Linked DNA regions of Homo sapiens: region 2 is linked to region 1. A link means that fine-mapping ties the variant in region 1 to the expression of a gene that starts in the linked region. Tissue or cell type: whole blood. Region 1 holds a variant in brackets; the other region holds the start of a gene. All regions are shown on one strand. Distances are between the middles of the regions.

Region 1 (7,742 bases):
CTCCTCCTCACTTCTCCAGGGTCCCACCTTGTGGTCACCAACTGCTCCGCGGAACACAGCCACCCAGCTCTGTCCTGCAAGATGGCTGCTGAGTTCGACACCTTCTTGGCCAGTGGGCTTAGGCGAGTGTTCCTGGGTCTCTGGGGATAAGTGTGGTCTGGGCCCAGTGAAAATAACCCCTGGGACTCCTGGGGTCTGACTTCAGCCCCCACTCCTCTAGCAGGCAGTGGGCAGATGGCTGGGAAGTCCAGCTGGGTTCCAGTCCTGACATTCAGGATTGGGTATGTGACCTTGGGAAAATGGCTTTTTTTTTTGAGACAGAGTATCGTTCTTCTTGCCCAGGCTGGAGTGCAAATGGTGCAGTCTCGGCTCATTGCAACCTCCGCTCCTGGATTCAAGCGATTCTCCTGCCTCAGCCTCCCAAGTAGCTGGGATGACAGATGCCCACCATCATGCCTGGCTAACTTTTGTAATTTTAGTAGAGACGGGGTTTCACCATGTTGGCCAGGCTGGTCTCGAACTCCTGACCTCAGGTGATTCACCTGCCTCGGCCTCCTAAAGTGCTGGGCTTACAGGCGTGAGCCACCACACCTGGCCAGGGCGAGTGTCTTAACCTCTCAGTCTTGGTCCTCAACTGTGAAGTGGGTACCCTCCTCATGAGCTTACACAATATGCAACTTGGCACAAAACAGATGCCTTAAATGTCAGCCTCTCCCACCCCTACCCCCATTCCGTCACTGTTGACCGACTGTGGGGGTGCTTGGGGACCCTGGCTTGGAACCCCCCCAACAAGTTCACTGTCCCCGTTTCATCCCTACAGGTGGTTCTGCCATGTGGACGATGACAACTATGTGAACCCAAGGGCGCTGCTGCAGCTTCTGAGAGCCTTCCCGCTGGCCCGCGACGTCTATGTGGGAAGGCCCAGCCTGAACCGGCCCATCCATGCCTCAGAGCCACAGCCCCACAACCGCACGGTGGGTCCCTCTCCTCCTCCTTTGCCCCTTGGCCCGCTGATCCCAAGGGCCGGGCCGGTCCTGGGGGTGGGGGTGTGCTAGAGAGGTGAGAGGGGTTCTGGGTTTCAGGTTTGGCCCTATGTGGGTTTGGGCTGGTAGCTTCCCCTCTTCAACCCTCAGTCTCTTCCTCTGTGAAATGGGGAGACTGAGATCATGCAGTCGTGGCACAGACACAGTACATAGTGAGGCCTCCATCCCCCAGGAACCACGGCTTGTCCTGGTCACTCAGGGAGCATCCAGGTGAGCTGAGGCTGTGTGACACCACAGCAGGGCTCCCAGTCACCTGGTGTCCCCATGTAGGTGTGCAGGTTGTTAAAATGCTGGAATGGCTGGGGGCAGTGGCTCATGCCTGTAATCCCAGCACTTTGGGAGGCTGAGGTGGGTGGGTGACCTGAGGTCAAGAGTTCGAGACCAGCCTGACCAATATGGTGAAACCCCGTCTCTACTAAAAATACAAAAATTAGCTGGGCATGGTGGCGGGCACCTGTAGTCCCAGCTACTCGGGAGGCTGAGAGAGGAGAATCGCTTGAACCCAGGAGGCGGAGGTTGCAGTGAGCTGAGATTGTGCCACTGCACTCCAGCCTGGGCGGCAGAGCGAGACTCCGTCCCTCCGTCAAAAAAAAAAAAAAAAATTGCTGAATACTGTGGGGCTGGGTGATTGCTGCCACCTGAGCCCCAGAACCCTTCCCCACCTTCCCCTCCTGGGGCACCCTCTCCCTCCAGACACCTCCACTAGCCTGTGACTGAAGAGTCGACACCTGGCAAAACAGGGGGCTCTGTACCCGCCTCAGTTCCTGACCTGGATGGACACTGATTTGGGTTGCCAGATTCATTAAACAAATAAATGAAAAACCACTACATCCAGTTAAACTTGACTTTCTCATAAATAATGAGGAAATTTTTAGTATAAGTATGTCCCAAATATTGCATGGTTCTCTCCCTGTCCCCAGGACCCCCTGGGCATCAGGTGTTAGAGTGGTCCTGGCCCTAGGGCTCCCTTGGCTCCAGGAAGAAGGCAGATCGGGAGGTCCCTCTCTAGAGGCAGTGCCTGGTGCAGGAGCTGGGCACACAGCGGGGCTCAACCTCCCTTCCCAGGTCCCCATCTGCTTCATTAGGAAAACCAAGAGCAGAAAACACAGAGCCTTAATTATCAGTAGCTAATCAGCCTCTGAGCCTTAATTAAATTCTTCTGGGCCCTAGGGCTCTGTGTATGAGTGATTCCAGGGGAGCCAGGGGGTCCCCCAGGCTCTCACACCACTTCACTGCTGGCGACTCACCTCTGCCTAAGCAGTTTGCCTCTGGGGTGGAGAACTGCACGCTGGAGCCTGACTCCCTGGGTTTACACGGCAGCCCTGCCACCTCCTGGCTTTGTGACCTTGACTGAGGTCACCTCACCTCTCTGTGCCTCAGTTTCCTAATCTGTGAAATGGGTGATAACAGCCCCTACTCAAAGAGTGGTCGTGAACACAGAAGAAAGAATGAAATGAGGTCATCTCTCCAAGTCCTTGGAATGAGACCTGGCACGAAGTCAACACTAGAAAGTGTTAGTGATCTGAGGCCGGGCGCGGTGGCTCATATCTGTAATCCCAGCACTTTGGGAGGCCGAGGCAGGTGAATCACCTGAGGTCAGGAGTTTGAGACCAGCCTGGCCAACAAATAGTTAAACCCTGTCTCTACTAAAAAATACAAAAATTAGTTGGGCGTGGTGGCGCACGTCTGTAGTTCCAGCTATTTGGGAAGCTGAGGCTGGAGAATCGCTTGAACCTGGGAGGCGGAGGTTGCAGTGAGCAGAGATGGTGCCACTGCACTTGAGCCTGGGCAACAGAGCAAGACTCTGTCTCTTAAAAAAAAAAAAGTGTTAGTGATTTGTATTGGACACAGCCTGACCTTTGTTTCCCAGCCACATCTTTCCTATGCACACTCAGGCCCCGTCAACCTAGGCCCACCTCTGTGGCCCAGGAGAGCAGGTGCCATGTTCGGCAGCCCCTCCCAAGCCACATGGAGTGAGGTAGAGACCTTTCTCAGGGGAAAGGGGCATGGTGGCTGGGTGGGTAAAACAACACCTGTCCCCTTTAACTGGAATTCAGCTGGACTTGAGTCTGATCAGTGACCTCACCACTCATAATTAACTATGTGACTTCGGGCCTCTGTTTTCTTATCTATAGAATGGGTGCAATAATGCCAGGTTGTAGCAAGACTCTAGTGAGATTCAAAATAAAGGGCTTTTGAGCCATGCTGGTTGGGGGTGAAGGGTGGCCTGGCTGTCCCTTTTCCCCACAACTGCCACCAGGCTCACTCTGCCCCTTGGCCTTCCTCTCTCTCAGAGGCTGGTACAGTTCTGGTTTGCCACTGGGGGTGCTGGCTTCTGCATCAATCGCAAACTGGCTTTGAAGATGGCTCCGTGGGCCAGGTAAGCAGAGACCCAGGGGTGGGCAGGAAGGCGGGGAGGGGGTGGCAGCTGGGGTACAGGAGGGGCCTTTGCAGCAGGAAGGGCTTTGAGAGTGAGCTCAGGAGAAGCTGCTCCTCATTTGCGTGTGTCACAGAGCGGCAGTTGGTGGTGAACAAGCCACCTGCCACCTGCCCTCAGGGGCTGCACGGCTGAGCGCATGACGTGCCACTCACAGGCAAGTCATGTCATCTCCAAGAGCCCCAGTCCCCCCGTCGGCACATGGACCTGATAATGCAGTGGCCAATGGTGTAGTAAGGGTTAAATGAGAAAATGTCTGGGCTGGCCCTGGTAGGTGCTATTTACCGCCCTTTTCTGACTGGTCAATGCCGTAGGGGAGGTGAAGGCCAAATCTAAGGGTCTTCAGAGGAGGGAGAAGGGCCTTCTGGGTGAGGGAAGAAGGGAAGGCTTCCAGGAAGAGGTGGTATTTGAGCTGGGACAGTCCACTATACACTGGGCCATCTAAGGGAGATGATATTACTCCTAATAGCACAGTGGGTGTACATCCTGTGATATTATTCATAATATCATCTAAGGGAGATGATATTACTCCTAATATTATGAGGGGATCTCAGGGGTAGTGGAGGCCGCAGTGTGGGTGGGGGTGGGACACAGGTGTTCTAGAAGTGGCGAGG[C/T]CTGGCTTCTGGAGGTCTTTCCGGGCTATTATTATTATTAACAGCACCATCAGCAGCCACTCCCTTGTATTGAGGACTGACTCTGAGCCAGCTCTGTGCTCCATCAAGAGGATCACAACACCTGGGGGAGAAGGTGGCATTAGTCTTGTTTCTAGATCTCAGGCAACTGAGGCACTGAGATTAAGCCAGTCTGAGGTCAGCCAGGTTCAAGGTCACTCAGCTGCTGGGTTTGGCTCCAAGGTCTGCAAGCCTTGCTACTACCCAAGCCTGCCCTGCCTTGCCCTGGCTGGGAGGGGCGCCCCAGGCAATTCATACTGGACAAGAGCGGGCTCATTGTCCTGGGGCATGTCCACAGAACTGTGTGTGTACACATGACCAGGGTCATCCGTGTGCCTGGGGTGCCCCCACCCAGGCTTCTGCCCACCTCTAAATTACCTTTGTGTGAATTAGAAAAAGCCCTCTCCCTCCAACTCCTGCAGGTGCAGCTTGAGGGCATGCAGGCTGGGGAGGGGAGTGCAGGCTGGGGAGGGGAGTGCAGGCTGGGGAGGGGAGTACAGGCTGGATTTCCACACCCACTTGCCCCTTGGACAAGCATCCAGGGCAGCGGCATTAATGGGGTATACGCGGCCAGTTGAAGTCCATGCCTGGGACTCTGTTCCTGTCTCCCCTCAGCACTGGCTGACTCCAGCCCATCCTGCAAGACTCTGTTTAGGTGGCTCATGCCTGTAATCCCAGCACTTTGGGAGGCTGAGGTGGGTGACTCACTTGAGGTTAGGAGTTCAAGACCAGCCTGGCCAACGTGGTGAAACTCTGTCTCTACTAAAAATACAAAGATTAGCCGGGCATGGCAGCGGGTGCCTGTAGTCCCAGCTATTCAGGAGGCTGAGACAGGAGAATTGCTTAAACCCAGGAGGCGGAGATTGCAGTGAGCCGAGATTGCACCACTGCACTCCAGCCTGGGCAATGAAGGGAGACTCTGTCTCAAAAACAAACAAACAAACAAACAAACAAATGAACACACAAAAAAGCTGCCACCTCCTCTGGAAAGCCCGCCTGATTCTCCCTGTACCCCCAGGCAGCATGCTTCCCTCTGACTTAGCACCACTCTTTGAAAGACCTGCTCCCTGCTCTGTCTCCCGCCAGAATAGGGGCTGCTGTTGGGGGCAGGAAGCGTTTCTTTCTCATCTCTGTATCCTCAGCCCTAGCATGGTATCTGGCACCAGCAATGAATAAATGAGTGAATGAATGAATGACAAGACAGAGAGAGAAGGAAAGGCTACATTTATAAAGGGCATCACCTTCCCATTCCCTGTTTAATCCTCACGACAGCTCCACGAAGACACGGCCATTAGCATCCCCATTTCACAGAACAGGAGACTGAGGCTGAGGCTCCCCAAGGTTCCTGACTTGCTCAAGGTCATACAGTATGCAGGAGGCAGGTGCTCTGTTCTGCCAGCTTGTCCCAGTGGAGGGCCTTCATGGGGTGGCCCACGGCTCTGGGTGTGGAGGGCCTGGGCCAGCGTCTGCAGTCTGGCTCTGTCCCTCAGTGGCTCCCGTTTCATGGACACATCTGCTCTCATCCGGCTGCCTGATGACTGCACCATGGGCTATATCATTGAGTGCAAGCTGGGCGGCCGCCTGCAGCCCAGCCCCCTCTTTCACTCCCACCTGGAGACCCTGCAGCTGCTGAGGACTGCACAGCTCCCAGAACAGGTGAGCTGGCCTTGGGGGCAGGTGGCAAATGGGAAGGGGAACCAAAGGAACATGGGGTCCCCCCAACCCTCCCTCCTGGCGTTTGAAAGAAACCTGGAACTCCAGATTATGGGTCTTGGGTATTCCCTATTGATGGGGAAACTGAGGCCTAGGGTGGCAAAGGACACCCTAAGGGTACACAGGGACTCAACCCCTTCACCTCTAACCCTCAAGGATTAGCATTTGTGAAGCTGAAATTCTTTGATCTGGTCCTCAAATGCCGGGAAGGACCTGAACAAATGAGATGAGGTTGTCTTCAGGTTCCCACCACCCTGCTCTCCACCCATACCTCTACTCAGTCTTCCATCCTCCCCACATTCCTCCCGGGGAGCCCAGCTGGCTCTTCTAATTTTACCTGTTAGGAGCCCCTTCCTTCATCAAAACTCCCCTATCCATTGCTCAGTGCTGTTCCTGCCAACCCTGAGGTTACCGGGATGGAATGGGTCTTTGGGGGGACGCTCAGCATTATGTTAGGCTGGGGGAGGAGGGGGACCCCATCCCACCACCTGGCAGGTGATACAGGTCCAACTGGCTCTGCCTCGGAGAGGCTGCCCTCTGACACTGTAGATGGTCCTGGCTGGGAGCGTCCCCGGGATCTCCTGCCCAACAGTGTGACAGAAACTCAACGTGAACTGGCTAACCTGAAAAGGAAATTGTTGGCTCACATAACTGAGAAGCTCTCCCCCAAGTTGGCCCATCCTCAGGTGGGCTCAGCCCTCATGTTGGCAAGATGGCAGCCCCAGCTTTCCCCCCACTATCGGAGGAGAGCGCCTCCTTCCTTCAGATCCCCGGGCTGGCGTTCATTGATTTGATGACTGGGCTTGGGTCAGGTGACCCATCTCCTACCAGCACCTGGAGTTAGTGTTGATTGGCCAGGCCTGGAACTGGGGTGTGAGGTTGGTCCCATTAGGATGGCAGGGCCTGAAGCCAGGAAAGAGAGGCAGATTTGAGGCAGCCCAAACCAGGGCATCCTAATGGTTAGGGTATCCTGAGTACCCACAATGCCAGGCACCACACTGGGGTCCTTCCCTTCTTTTTTTTTTTGAGATAGAGTCTCGCTCTGTTGCCCAGGTTGGAGTACAATGGCACGATTTTGGCTCTCTGCAACCTCCACCTCCCGGGTTCAAGTGATTCTCCTGCCTCAGCCTCCTGAGTAGCTGGGACTACAGGCACCCACCACCATGCCTGGCTATTTTTAGTAGAGACAGGGTTTCACCATGTTGGCCAGGCTGGTCTCGAACTCCTGACCTCAAGTAATCCACCTGCCTCAGCCTTCCAAAGTGCTGGGATTACAGGCATGAGCCACCGCACCCAGCCACCCTTCTTTAACTCTCTGGTTCCTCACAGTAGTCACATGAGGTCAGTACTAACATTATCCCCATTCTATAGATGGGGAAAATGAGACCCAGCGAGCTGAACTGACCACGGCACACAGCTAATATGGGGCAGAGGGGCACTGGAACCCTAGCTGGGTGGTCCCTATGCCCACAGTCTTTAACCACTGTGCTCTACAGCCTCTGAGCTGAAATCATGATCCATGTCGTCACTGCCTGGTGGAGTAGGGGCTCCGGGTGAAGAGGGATGTGCCAAGGCCCTCCAGTGAGTCTCAGAAAACCTCCATTCTAGTCCAGGCTTGCAGCTTACTGGAAAGCTGCCTTTTCCTGTTGAGCCTCAGTTTCCAAATCTGTAGATGGGGGTATTGTTCCAGCTTCTCAGGGGAGCTCAACTCTTGAGGGAGCAAATGGGATTAAGGGCATGGCAGTGCTCTTCCAGCTGTGAAGTGCCTTGGGGCGTGGGGTGGGCTCCCACCACCAGCGGGGAATTTCAGGTTCCCGGGCAGCTTTCCCTGCAGCTTAAAACCCCTCCTCCACCTGTGCCAGGATGCTGCCCCCTTGT
Region 2 (7,742 bases), 85 kb before region 1:
TGCGACAGAGCGAGACTCCGTCTCACAAACAACAACAACAACAAAAACATTACTCCTGAGGGCAGCATGAGATTAGAGAGGGGAAACTGAGGCACAAAGTGACGTAACTTGCCTGAGGCTACGTAGTAAGAAATGGTGAAACAGGCCCCACATCCCAGAGCCCTGGAGCCCCAGGCTACACTGCCTCCTGCTGAGTAACTGAGTAAGTCACCTCCCTTCTCTGTGCATTAAAATCTCTGCCACGCAGCGAAGCCAGGAGGGAGCAGACACCTCACCAAAGCTTTGTGAAGCTGGGTAAACAGCCAGAGCAGAGGTTCCTCTGAACCATCCACCTTCAAGGAGCTTCCTGGAATAAGGATCCTGTGGTCAAAAGTGGCTTTTTCCAGCTGCCTCCTCCATGCGTGAGCATATTCAAGTCTCTGAGAAGGCCCGCAGGAAAAGACTTTATCACAGTTTGTCAAACTGACGTAGGAGCCTTGCTGTCAGGGAGCAAGCTTTGGAAAAAGCTCAGCTGGTGCCAAAAGCTATTTCTTGTGCATCTCTCCTTCCTGATTCCCCACCCCCACCATACACACACACACATCCTCCCCTGCTCCAGCTTCTCTAAGCATCTCTTGTTCTGACCCCTTTCCTTCTAGTGTCATACAAAGTCCAGGCTAGAGCGCACCTGTGATCCTATGCTTTTCCTGTGGCCCACTGAGGGCAAAGCTGGCTAGAGGTCAGATCCACAGAGCTAGTTGAGACTTGAACTCAGAGCCTCTGACTCACATAAGCCCTTGACTGGCTTGTGGAGCCCAGTCTCGCCTCCCGAGATCGGCAATGCACTTGGAGGGTGGGGAGGCCGCCTGGATTTTCCTGCCTTTCTCCCTTGGGCATCTAGCTTGGGCTCTGCACTTAACAAGTGCCAAATCAATGCCAGCTGAATCACAGATCTCCATGATAACCTGCATGCCAAAACATCACCCTGGCCCCTTCTGAGAGTGGGAGGGCAGGCTGGGCTCTGTGTCCTCACAATGTGACCTTGGGCAAGTCACTTACCTACACAGACCTGGGACCTCAGCTGATAAAAGTCAATAATGATCCTTAAGAACACCTATGTCTGCGGCTCAGCCTTCTTCCTTTTTTAAAACCATTGCTGCCACCTCCAAGCATAGAAATCTCAATACTGCCCTTCTAATGTTATTTGAAATTCAAAATAGGTTAAATAACAAGATAAGAACAAAGAAGCCAATAGGACAAAGCTTGCTTTGTTTTCTGACTACATTCTCTTCCCTTCCCACCATCTGATCCTCCCCCAACCCTAACTCCTCCCCCTCGTGGGGGGGAACTTCTGAATCATCTTCTTCCCTCCCTGGCACCCCCGGCACCGAGAAGTCCTCGTGGAATGTTTGCTGAAGTTCTGAAGCGATCCACAGTTGGCCAACCATTACATGATGTCATCTGATTCTCCAACAACCCTGCAAAGCCGCAGCGTGGCCTATTTGACAGGCAGCACTGAGGTTCGGAGGGAAGGGAGACCTGTCCAAGGTTAAGTGACAGGTTCATGGCAGGGCCAAGTTTCCCTGCTCAGCAGGGATTAAGGATGCATCTCTGGGGGAAGGAATGGGAGCGGGAAGGGTGTTCCTCTGTACAATGTCCTGTAGAAGGGTCTGCCATGTGGCCTTACCCACTTGCTCCCACCCCAGCTCCCTGACTTTTTTTTTTTTCTTTTTTGAGGCAGGGTCTCACTCTGTCACCCAGGCTGAGTGCAGTGGCTCCATCACAGCTAACTGCAGCCTCGAACTCCCAGGCTCAAGCGATCCTCCCACCTCAGCCTCCTGAGTAGCTGGGACTACAGGCACATACCACCATGCTCAGCTAAGTTTTTCCACTTTTTGTAAGGACAGGGTCTCACTCCATTGCCCAGGTTGGTCTCAAATTCCTGAACTCAAGCCATCCTGCTGCCTCAGCCTCCCAAAGTGCTGGGATTACAAGTGTGAACCACCACACCTGGCCTCCCTGACTTCTTGAGGCAGCACCTCATCTCCCAGCAAAAGGGGCTCCTCCCCCCTGAACCCCCATGGTCACTTTTGACTTGGGGGACCAGCTTCCTCCCCAATCTTGCGATGATCCCATCTTTCAAATGTTTCTGGGCACCCCCCCAATAGTACCCACCCCTCACACTACCCTGCCTACTGCGGTCGAGAGACTCTGCAGCGCTGTGGAGCTGAGGGCAGGGTATTGGGACCCGGTCTTCCCATGTGGAAAACGGAACAGCACACCAGGCAGTTCCCCTCCCAGGGGAGTTGCAAGGGTAGAAAATGTAATGAAACCCTCAGATACTGGAGCAGGGCAGCCATGGGTTCAAATCTGACACCTTTACACTAACATCTCTCATTCCAGGGACCCCGGTGGCAGCCACGTGGCACTTGCTGCCAACCACAGGGCACTGCTGGCCATCAGGTGTGCCTCACCTGGCACTGGAGTAAGCAGGGCTCCAAGTGTCCTGGTGCCAGGCTCACCTCCCCTCACCTGCTCAGGAACACCGCCCGTTAGTGTTCAGAACACCCCTTTCACAGATGGAAAAAACGAAGCTCAGAAAGGAGACATTTACCCTCAGTCACAGACCAACATTGCTGGTAAATGCCCCAGGGTGGGGGTGAAGACGATGGGGAATGGGGAAGACGATTTGGAGGGCTTGGATGCCCAGTGCTGAGCCCGGTGTGGGGTGCAGGTGCAGGCCTGGGAAGACAGGAGACCCAGCTCTGCAGATTCACTGCCTGTGACCTGGGCAAGGAGGTCACCACACAGCCTCAGTGTCCTTGGAGTCCTTATATTTACCCTATAGAGGATAGTCAGGGCCTGGGCACATGGCCTGAGCTCACTCAATGGTGGGAATGACGCAAGAACAAGTTTTGGAGCCGGGATCGGGCCAACAGGGGTCGCTGTGGAGGCACATGTGGTCGCGGGGAGGCCAAGGGCGGGTCTGAAGGAGAGCGGGGGCGGCTGCACCCTGGCATTCACCTGGGGGTCACCCGCAGGCCGCAGTGCTGGCCAGGGGCCCACGTCTCATCCTGGAGGCCACTGCTCGGGTGCACACAGCCCACTTCCTGCGGGCATCCAGCTGGGTGACGCCCCCCCCCACCGCTGGACAGCGGGTCCCTGTCATGGTTACGGCAGCTCCCCCAAACCTGCTCTGGTCCCTGGAATAAGGGGTTAAACCGGTCGGCTGACTTCTCCTGCTCCTCAAAGTCCAGACGCTTCAAGGTGGAGAGACGGGGAAACTGAGGCCAGAACGGGGTAGCTAGTTGTTCGCAGTCGCGCTAGGGGACCCGGTCCTCCGTATTCCAAGGGGGGCACCGTGGGCCATTAGGGAGCGACGGGGAAAGTGGAAAGGAGACGCGCTTCGTGCCCACCGCCCCGAGTTAGAGCCGAACCAGCCCGGGACCGAGCGAGACGGAGCGGCTGCGGGCCGCGTCTCGGGTCCCCGCGCCACGTTTAGTGCCGCTGCGGCCTCCCGGCCAGTCCCCCCTACTCTCTAAGCCTCAGTTTCCCGGTCTAGGAAAAGGGCTTCGAATGTTGCGGGTCTGGCACTGCTGGGGCAAAGGCAGAACAATCTGGAGGGCGGCCGGGATTGGAAGTCCGGGAAAGACTTCGGCCATCCAACATTCCCTGGGGGGACGGGGCTCAGGACGCGGAGGGTCGCTCCGCGGGGGAAGGGGACGACCGGCTGTCTTGGCCGGAGGGGAACCGGACGGGATGACCTCATCCGCGGCTCCAGCCTGGAATGCGGCGGTCGGGGAGGGGGGCAGGGTGCCTGTCCATCTCCCCGGGCCCCCCACCCCCCACTTCCCGCTCTCCGCGTGGGCCTCGGCGGAGGGGAGACATTCCGCCGCGTCGCCCGCTGCCCGCCCCGGCCCTTCCTTCCCCCGCGCAGGAAGGCGCGGAGACAGCCCCCGCTCTGCCCCTCGGCTCGCCCCCTCCTCGCGCATTTTGGCCGCTCAGCCGTGTCCGATCCTCTGCCCCCTCCACCAGCCTGGAACGGGACACGAAGCCCGAAAGCTCGGAGTTTCCTCGCGCGGCTCCGCGGCCGCGCCCGGCCTTCCTGTGGGCACCCGGGGGCGCCTCTCCCGGGCGGGTCCCGTCCCCGTTCCGGCCCCGGGAGCCTAGTAGGGTGCAGAGTCCCCGCGGGCGCCGGGACCCGCCGGCCTCCACGGCCTCCGCCCCGAGGACCCGCGCGCCCGGGCTGTTACCTGGCTCCGCGAGCCCCGGGGGCGCGGGACGAGGGCGGACTCGTCGTCTGCAGCGGCGGCGGCCGCGCGTCCCGGCTGGCAGCCCGGGAGAGTCGCTGGGCCGGTCTGCGCCGCCCTGGCCGCGGGCTCCGCGGGCTGGATCCGGGGGCGGGGGCGGGGTGTGGGCGCTCCCGCCTCCCGCCCGTCTCCTCCCGCCCGCGGGCGGGGCCCGGCCCCCTCCCCGGCCCCCTCCCCGGCACCGTCCTCGCGGCCGCCGAGAGCTGGCAGGGACGCGGCTGGGGGGCCAGGCCAGGCCTCTGCTCGCCACCCCGGACAAGGCCAGCCGGGGAACGTGCGGGCTGCCCCGGGGAGGCGACTCCGGTCCCCGGCCGCCAACCCCTCTTCCACCGGTTCCCCTCGTGGCCTTGCTTGGGGCGTCCAGGCCTGATGAACTCTCCTCCCTCCTGGGCCCTCCAGCCGCGCCCTGCGGGAGTTCGGGGAACCGGGAAGCTCGATCTGAGGCCTTGAATGCCTGGGCCTTTAAACCTTGATGTTTACAGGCATGACATGCCCACTCCTTTGCTCCCCATTCTCATTCCCTTCCATCCGGTACAGGCCCCGCGGTGCCCAGGAGGAAGACAGCCATACTGGGGCGACTGGTAGAGTGGGGTAGAGTGGCCGTCAAGACCGGGACCCTGGAGCCGGACAGCCTGGGCTCCTGTCCTGCCTCAGTCACTACTTACCTTTCTCTGCCTCAGTTTCCTGATCTGAAAGTGGGATAGATAATAGCAGCATCAGATGTTGTGTGAAGTGTTTCCTGCTCCAAGAGCACCTAGGAGGCTTGCTCGGCAGGTAAATGAAGTCGCATCTCAGAGACTTTACAGACCCTCCCCCCACCCCGCCCACCTCCATGGAGGGCAGGGAATCAGCCATACCCGGGACCCTGTGCCATCCTCAAGGAGGGGAGATAGATCTCTGGCCCCTGCCTCCCGTTGTTGTGCCCTCCTTTGACTACTCCCATCTGACTATAGAGTCCTCGGGCTGTCAGGGCACAGAGAGGTCCCTAATACTTCCTGCAGGGCCTGGGGGCTCAGGAAATCTTCCTAGAGGAGATGATACCTGAGTTAAGTCTCTCTCTCTCTCTTTTTTTTTTTTTTTTTTTTTTTTTTTTTTTTTTTTTTTTTTTTGAGACGGAGTCTCTCTCTGTTGCTCAGGCTGGAGTGCCATGGCATGATCTCAGCTCACTGCAGCTTCCACCTCCCGGGTTCAAGCGATTCTCCCTCCTAAGCCTCCGGACTAGCTGGGATTACAGGCACCCACCCACGCCCGGCTAATTTTTGTATTTTTTAGTAGAGAGGGGGCTTCACCATGTTGGCCAGGCTGGTCTTGAACTCCTTACCTCAGGTGATCCGCCTGCCTTGGCCTCCTCAAGTGCTAGGATTATGGGTGTGAGCCACTGCATGGTTGTGAGTTAAGTCTTAAAGGACGTGTAGGCAGAGGGAAGGGCAGTGGAAATGCACAGTGCACAGCTGGCAAGGGACAGCACAGCAAAGGCTGGGAGTGGAGGACCCTGCAGCGGAGGCAAACCCGGCTGAAGGAGACTGGCTGAGCGCTGTTGTGGCCGGGGATGAGGAGCTGTATTTACCCGCAGGTGGAGGAGACAAGGTCTTTACTGTTCACCCAGGGGCTAGGCCTCTTCCACTGGCTCCCTGAATCCCCATGCTGGCCACCAAGGGAAGGAGCTATTTCTGCAGCTGGACAAATGAGGAAACAGAGGCACAAAGCATTCTAGCATTTGCTCAAGTGGCACAGCAGTAGGAACTCTTTCCCTGGGGGCCGGCCCAGGAGTATTTTGTCCCATGGAGAACTGGAACAGCATCAGGACAGTGAGCCAGCAGGCAGCACTGGCAGGTGTACATTTAGAAGACTGACTGTTGCCCGGCGTGGTTGCTCACGCCTGTAATCCCAGCACTTTGGGAGGCTGAGGTGGGCAGATTACTTGAGGCTGGGAGTTTGAGACCAGCCTGACCAATATGGTAAAACTCCGTCTCAACTAAAAATACAAAAATTAGCCAGGCGTGGTGGCGGGTGCCTGTAATCCCAGCTACTCGGGAGGCTGAGGCAGGGAGAATTGCTTGAACCTGGGAAGCGGAGGTTGCAGTGAGCTGAGATCGCACCACGGCACTCCAGCCTGGTCAACAGAGCGAGACTCCATCTTAAAAAATAAAAATAAAAAAGTGCCGGGCGCGGTGGCTCACACTTGTAATCCCAGCACTTTGGGAGGCCGAGGCGAGCAGATCACTTGAGGTCAGGAGTTCGTGACCAGCTTGGCCAACATGGTGAAATCCTGTCTCTACTAAAAATACCAAAAATTAGCCGGGCATAGTGGTGGGCGCCTGTAATCCCAGCTATTCAGGAGGCAGAGGCAGGAGAATTGCTTGAATCTGGGAGACGGAGGTTACAGTGAGCTGAGATCGTGCTACTGCACTCCAGCCTGGGCGACAGAGCGAGACCCCATCTCAAAAAAACAAAAAACAAAATAGAAATCTGACTGTGAGTGAAGAATGGACTGGAAGGACAGTGATGGAAACAAAGAACTAGTGCTACTGTGGTTATTACTATTAATAGCATCAGTAGTAACCAGCACTTATTGAGCACCTGATGCATACCAGGTCCTGTAGCTCATTAACATGCATTATGACATTTAATTCTTGTGAGAGCCCCATAGGGAAAGTCCTGCCATGGTGTCCCTTTTGCAGATAAGTGAAGTGATTTGCGTAAAGCTCCCTACTTTGGCAGGATGGCCATACTTTCCAGTTTGCCTAGGACAGCCCAGATTACACATACTGTTCCAGTGTAATTATTAATAGCACTTCCTTTCATTCTCAAAGGTGACCTGGTTAGACAATCAATTACACGTCACTCTAGTCAGAGGATCCCTAGAGCGGCTGGTAAAGGAGGCAGTCTGGTGCAATGTCAAAGGCCCTGAGCTCAAATCCTGGCCCAGTGGCTGACCGTGGGCAAAGCACTTGGCCCATTTGAGCCTCAAGTTTCTCATCTCTGAAATGGGTATAATAGCAGTGTGGGTATTTACTAGTTGGGGTGTTGTGAGCCCCAGGCAGATGACTGAGCAAGCAGTCCTGATGGAAGTGGTTACAACCTGCCCCATGCTTGCTCCATCTTCTTCACCCGCGGGCAGGGAGGGCAGGCAGGAAAGAACAAGAGGTTGAGAACCTCCCTACTATATATGCCACACGCTTTGTCTTCTCCAGCTCATTGACAGGCAACCTGTGAATCAGGAATTCTTGCCCCCTTTTACATCTGGGTAAGCTGAGGCAGAGAGGAGCCCTCTCCCTCCTTTGCAGCCTGCCTCCAGATAGAAACCTATCTCCATGTAGGCTGTGCCCTTGTTCCTGGCTCCACTCCTGATTTAAGGATCTGACTCAGTTTTTCCCTCTGGAAAACGGGAGAAAGGGAGAAGTTTCAATATCCCCAAGAAGGATCCAGGGTTGGGCAGTCTCCCTTTATCAT

Evidence for each region. PIP is the estimated chance that this variant, and not a neighbour inherited with it, causes the effect.
Region 2: it holds the start of CDC42EP1, and the variant in region 1 is fine-mapped to the expression of CDC42EP1 in whole blood (INTERVAL, PIP 0.98).

What each region holds. Positions count from the first base shown.
Region 1 is chr22:37,472,577-37,480,318 of GRCh38, reverse strand. It overlaps MFNG (MFNG O-fucosylpeptide 3-beta-N-acetylglucosaminyltransferase), which reads left to right. Exons shown (of 8, transcript NM_002405.4): 3 at 20-122; 4 at 821-974; 5 at 3,338-3,423; 6 at 5,642-5,807. Among named protein-coding and RNA genes, the nearest start is that of MFNG, 9.9 kb to the left of the region's middle. The variant C/T (reference allele first, on the strand shown) is at 4,095.
Region 2 is chr22:37,557,079-37,564,820 of GRCh38, reverse strand. It overlaps CDC42EP1 (CDC42 effector protein 1), which reads right to left and starts at 4,341. Exons shown (of 3, transcript NM_152243.3): 1 at 4,233-4,341. RefSeq lists enhancers at 355-855, 1,884-2,490, 2,793-3,022, 2,491-3,098, 3,099-3,705 and 1 more.